Regions from separate parts of the Homo sapiens genome. Here region 2 is linked to region 1. Evidence: fine-mapped expression QTL. Tissue or cell type: whole blood. Region 1 holds a variant in brackets; the other region holds the start of a gene. All regions are shown on one strand. Distances are from middle to middle.

Region 1 (2,681 bases):
ATTCTCGCACAATCTCTGTGCTAGACAGATGCTTACCTAGGAGTTGCAGGGCTGAATTTTTCTTCTCTTTCTATTTCCTTTCTTTGGATCAGAGGATTTTCAATTATCACTAAAACAGAGGGCAAAGTATGATGATATTACAAAACAGTAACAAGATAAACACTAACATCCTAAATAACATCCTGTTTAATTTATGATCATCATCGACTCTAGGCTTTAAAAATTCCTCACCTCATTCATCTTCTCCATCATCAACATATAACATATTTTGATACTGAGATGTCAAAATTGAAATCTTTATCTCCATATGTAACTAATATTCCAGCATTTATTCAAGGGATGTCTATAGCTATACTGGGCCCTATGAAGTTTGTGAAGCTTTCTGCCTTCATAGTCCATATGTTCAATGACCCTATTATTCAACTAGAGAGATACCATACATTGTCCTGAAAGTTAACAATACAAGGCAATATATGATTAGGTTCTAAATAACCGGTATGGGGAGTCAGCTGCTTGAGACCACAGTATTAAAGAGGAGTGTTTTCATTACCTGCATTACTCTTTTCTCTTTTTCTATCGTGAAGAACTAGTATACATGCTTTCTTGTTCCTTTTATGAGGCTAGGGCTCATAAAAGTTATCTGTTGAGTGACTAAGTTCCACACGTTATACTAGGTACACCATCTCATTTAATATTTACAAGAACCTAATGAGGTATTATTTCATAGTTGAGACCCAACAAGATTAAGAAATTTTCTCAAAGCCATGATGTAAGTCAATGTTGGAACTGGGATTTGAATCTAGACCTCTGTGTTTTCAAAGTCTCCTGTTCTTCCTACTATATGAGGCTGTTCTGTCAAAGAGATACTGGGGTGAGTAGATGTAAAAGATTTGGTATTTCAACTAAAAGTAAAGTTCCTTAAAATCCCATTAACAATTTAAATATCAGTTTTTATCAAAATCTATTCAGTGGTCAAATGTCAACTTTTATCAAAATATATTCAGTGGCTGTATTATATGTCTATAGAAAGATAACCAATTATAACAATAAAATGGGTTGGTGCAAATTGAAATATGTAATAAACCAAAGACAGTAAGGTTATTTAGTAAAAATATAACTATCACATTTGTATGCTTCAAATAACATTCTGAATGCCTCGCATTGCAGTCTTTTTTTTTTTTTTTTTTTTTTTTTGAGACAGGGTCTTACTCTGTGACTCAGGCTGGAGTGCAGAGGTAC[G/A]ATGTTGGCTCGCTGCAACCTCCACCTCCAGGGCTCAAGCCACCCTCCTGCTTCAGCCTCCTTAGTAGCTGGTACTACAGGCCCACGCCACCACACCCAGCTAATTTTTTGTAGAAATGGGGTCTTGCCATGTTGCTCAGGCTGGTCTCGAACTCCTGAACTCACGCAATCCACCCACCTCAGCCTCCCAAAGTGTTGGGATTACAGGCATGAGCCACCGTGCCCCACTGCATTATACTCTTAACACTTGACTTTTTCTGATAAAGTTCTTGAGAATTACGAACTGTGTCTCATTTCAACTCCTTCAGTATAGTTACCATAAACATACCACAGGAATAACACTATGATGGAAAAAGTTTAAGAATCAATGCCAACTTACCACAGTCACCAACCCTAAAGCTGTCAGAAAGAGACTTGATGTAATCTTCATTGCCCCAGGAAGCTGCATTTACAAAATGTGCTGGTGAATCCCGAATGGTGAAGCTGAAAGTGTACCTTTCTGATCCAATATCTAAGGGAAAACCAATGCTTTTATTTTTCAAATGAAGAGTTTCAATCGCTTCTCTGCCTTTTGATAAGTGTTACATGAAAAGTTTCATTTCAATTATAAACAAATGATTATTTGTTTAATCAAATAACTATTGATTATGATAATAAAAATACTCAAATACATAGTACAAAATGTTCTTTCAGATGTATATTCTATAACATGCTTCTATGAATTTCAAGCTGAAGTGGTAACAGGTTGCCCCCTTGCTCCCTTCCCTGGTGATCTGTGTATTTGGAGGGAAAAACATGTAAACTTGAGCCATCCAGGTATTACCTTAGGTTCTCCTTTTCTCTCTTACTGTTGTTTCAACCTAAGTCATAATTCAGATCTAAATAGTTATTTCAGTCCCAGCTACTTAGGAGGATGAAGCAGAATGACTGCTTAAGCCCAAAAGTTCAAGGCTTCAGCGAACTGTGATTGCCCCACTGCTCTCCAGCCTGGGCAACAGAGCAAGACCCCGTCCCAAAAATAAAAGTAAAAATAGGCCGGGCGCAATGGCTCACGCCTGTAATCCTAACACTTTGGGAGCCCGAGGCGGGTGGATCACCTGAGGTTAGTTCAAGACCAGTCTGGCCAACATGGTGAAACCCTGTCTCTGCTAAAAATACAAAACTTAGCCAGGCGTGGTGGTGGGCGCCTGTAATCCCAGCTACTCGGGAGGCTGAGGCAGGAGAATCGCTTGAACCCAGGAGGCGGAGGTTGCAGTGAGCCGAGATCCAGCCTGGGTGACAAGAGAAAAACTCTTGTCTCAAAAATAAATAAATAAATAATAATAAAATAAAAATAAAAATTGGCCAGGCACAACAGCTTACCCCTGTGATCCCAGGACTTTGGGAGGTGAGGTAGGAGAATCACTTGAGGCCTGGAGTTCAAAACCAGCCTGGGCAACATA
Region 2 (2,681 bases), 35 kb before region 1:
CAGCAGAAACCGTATTCCCTTTCCATATCACTCAGCCCAGCACTGCCTGGCAAATGTTCCCGGCTTGCTGTTTTGTAACTGTAATACTTTGTACAAACAGGTCAAGGACCTGCAGCCTGGGGCCTGGACCAAGTCCAGAAACATGTTCGGTTTGGCCCCAAAAACAAAAAAAAATTGAGATATGGTCTCACTCTGTCCCCTAGGCTACAGTGCAGTGGTGCGATCAAGGGTCACTGCAGCCTCGACCTCCTGGACTCAAGCGATCCTCCCACCTCAGCCTCCAAAGTGACTGAGACTACAGTTGTGTGCCACCACGCCCGGCTGATTTTGTTTAGTTTTTGTAGCGATGAGGTCTCAACATGTTGCCAGGCTGGTCTGGAACTCCTGGACTCAAGCGATCCTCCCGCCTCGGCCTCCCAAAGTGCTGGGATGACAGGCGTGCGTCACTGCACTTCTTTTTTAAATCAGGAAGTTTCACAGCATCTTGCTTCCCTTGAACTGGGCGGCACCAAATACGGGGGCTGGGGCCTCCCTTAGAATGGGGTACGCACGCCCTGCCGATGCACACAGTCCCGCTGGAACTCTCTGCCTGGACCCTTATGAATGTCCCTAAAACTGTAATTCTGAGGACCTCAAAATCCATGTCCTTTCCTTAGCAATGGCGACATTCTACCCCCTGCAGAGCCTTGACAGCTTTCGGCGAGATCTGGAAACCGCCAGGGACGCCTCCCTGTCTGCGCCTCCGCCCGCCCAGTGCCCTGCGCTGCGCACCCGCCCGGGGCGCTGGCCTGGCCCGGCCGCGCGACCACCTCGGGCGAATGACACGCCGGGTCCCCAGACGGGGGCTCCGGCGCCGGGCGGGCAGCTCCACCACCGCAGGCGGCGCCGCGAGACCGCGGTCCTTGCAGCGGGGCAGCAGGTGCGGGGTGGGCCAGGCGTCCCGGGGCCCTGCCCGCTGCGCCTCAGAGCCGCGCCCCAGGCTCTCCTCGGCGCCGGCCCGGGCAGGACGCGATGCCCTGGAGGCGTCAGGGGCGCGGCCGGCCCAGCCCGAGCGTGGAGGCCGCGGCGGACGCAGGCCTGGCCCTGCTTACCTAGCGCTTTCCGCACCCGCGGCCCCGCGCCCGCTCCGCGCCAGCCTCAGCGCCTGCGCCGCCTCCGCTCGAGCCCGGCAGCGCGGCCTTAGGCACCTGCGCAACAGACACCGCGTCAGCGGTCGCCAAACGACGGCCCGGCGCCGCCCGCTGCCCGCCCCGCCAGGCCCGCGTCCCCCGGCCCGCACCGCCCCGCCGCACCCACCGAGGCCTCGGCGGGCGCAGGCGGCTCCCAGCGCGGCGAGGCTGCGGCGGCCGAGCAGCCCTCGGCCCACCACCATGACCCGGGCCGGGCTGGACTGCCGAGCTGCCCAGGACTGCAAAACACCGGCGTCGGCGCGTCGCAGCCAATCAGCGCCCGCCTCGCGCTGCCCTCAGCCAATCAGCGTCCACCTCGCACCGTCCGCCAACCAATCAACGCGCTCGCGCTCAACTTGTTTTGTCCGCGAGCCCCGACTGCCACGGGCCGGGAGACGGGCCTGGGAGCGGCGGCGGCGGCCCGAGAGCTGCGCCGGGAGAGCTGTGCCGCGAGCCTCCGCCTCTTTTTTGGCACCGCACAGTGGATCCCTGGAGGCCGAGCGCCACGCCGCCCGGGTACCCGGCAGATCGCGAGGTGGAACGGGCCGTCGCTGCGGGGGACAGCGTTCCGAGGCAGTTGGTCCTCTCCGGGATGCCGTAGGCATCAGCTGACCGGCCCAGCCCACGTGACTACAGGGGCACTTGATGGGAATCATGGCAGCATCCAGGCCATTGTCCCGCTTCTGGGAGTGGGGAAAGAACATCGTCTGCGTGGGGAGGAACTACGCGGACCACGTCAGGGAGATGCGCAGCGCGGTGTTGAGCGAGCCCGTGCTGTTCCTGAAGCCGTCCACGGCCTACGCGCCCGAGGGCTCGCCCATCCTCATGCCCGCGTACACTCGCAACCTGCACCACGAGCTGGAGCTGGGCGTGGTGATGGGCAAGCGCTGCCGCGCAGTCCCCGAGGCTGCGGCCATGGACTACGTGGGCGGCTATGCCCTGTGCCTGGATATGACCGCCCGGGACGTGCAGGACGAGTGCAAGAAGAAGGGGCTGCCCTGGACTCTGGCGAAGAGCTTCACGGCGTCCTGCCCGGTCAGCGCGTTCGTGCCCAAGGAGAAGATCCCTGACCCTCACAAGCTGAAGCTCTGGCTCAAGGTCAACGGCGAACTCAGACAGGAGGGTGAGACATCCTCCATGATTTTTTCCATCCCCTACATCATCAGCTATGTTTCTAAGATCATAACCTTGGAAGAAGGAGATATTATCTTGACTGGGACGCCAAAGGGAGTTGGACCGGTTAAAGAAAACGATGAGATCGAGGCTGGCATACACGGGCTGGTCAGTATGACATTTAAAGTGGAAAAGCCAGAATATTGAGTTATTTCTTAACAAGTTTCGAGAGAGAAGGGAGCAAGACAAGAGCAAGCAACGGCTATTAAATGTCACAATCCTTTAATTAGAAACCATTTATTGGCCGGACGCGGTGGCTCACGCCTGTAATCGCAGCACTTTGGGAGGCCGAGGCGGGCGGCTCACGACGTCAGGAGATCCAGACCATCTTGGCTAACA

The links. PIP is the estimated chance that this variant, and not a neighbour inherited with it, causes the effect.
Region 2: HAGH starts here. The variant in region 1 is fine-mapped to the expression of HAGH in whole blood (TOPMed, PIP above 0.99). The same link has a PIP of 0.9 or more in thyroid and tibial artery.

Annotation. Positions count from the first base shown.
Region 1 is chr16:1,860,367-1,863,047 of GRCh38, forward strand. MEIOB (meiosis specific with OB-fold) reads right to left here. Exons shown (of 14, transcript NM_001163560.3): 4 at 1,619-1,750; 5 at 37-109. Among named protein-coding and RNA genes, the nearest start is that of MEIOB, 10 kb to the right of the region's middle. The variant G/A (reference allele first, on the strand shown) is at 1,240.
Region 2 is chr16:1,825,416-1,828,096 of GRCh38, forward strand. It overlaps HAGH (hydroxyacylglutathione hydrolase), which reads right to left and starts at 1,410. Exons shown (of 9, transcript NM_005326.6): 1 at 1,297-1,410. The coding sequence starts at 1,372. It overlaps FAHD1 (fumarylacetoacetate hydrolase domain containing 1), which reads left to right and starts at 1,791. Exons shown (of 1, transcript NM_031208.4): 1 at 1,791-2,681. The coding sequence starts at 1,824. The coding sequence ends at 2,489. RefSeq lists a silencer at 761-1,730 and an enhancer at 1,821-2,010.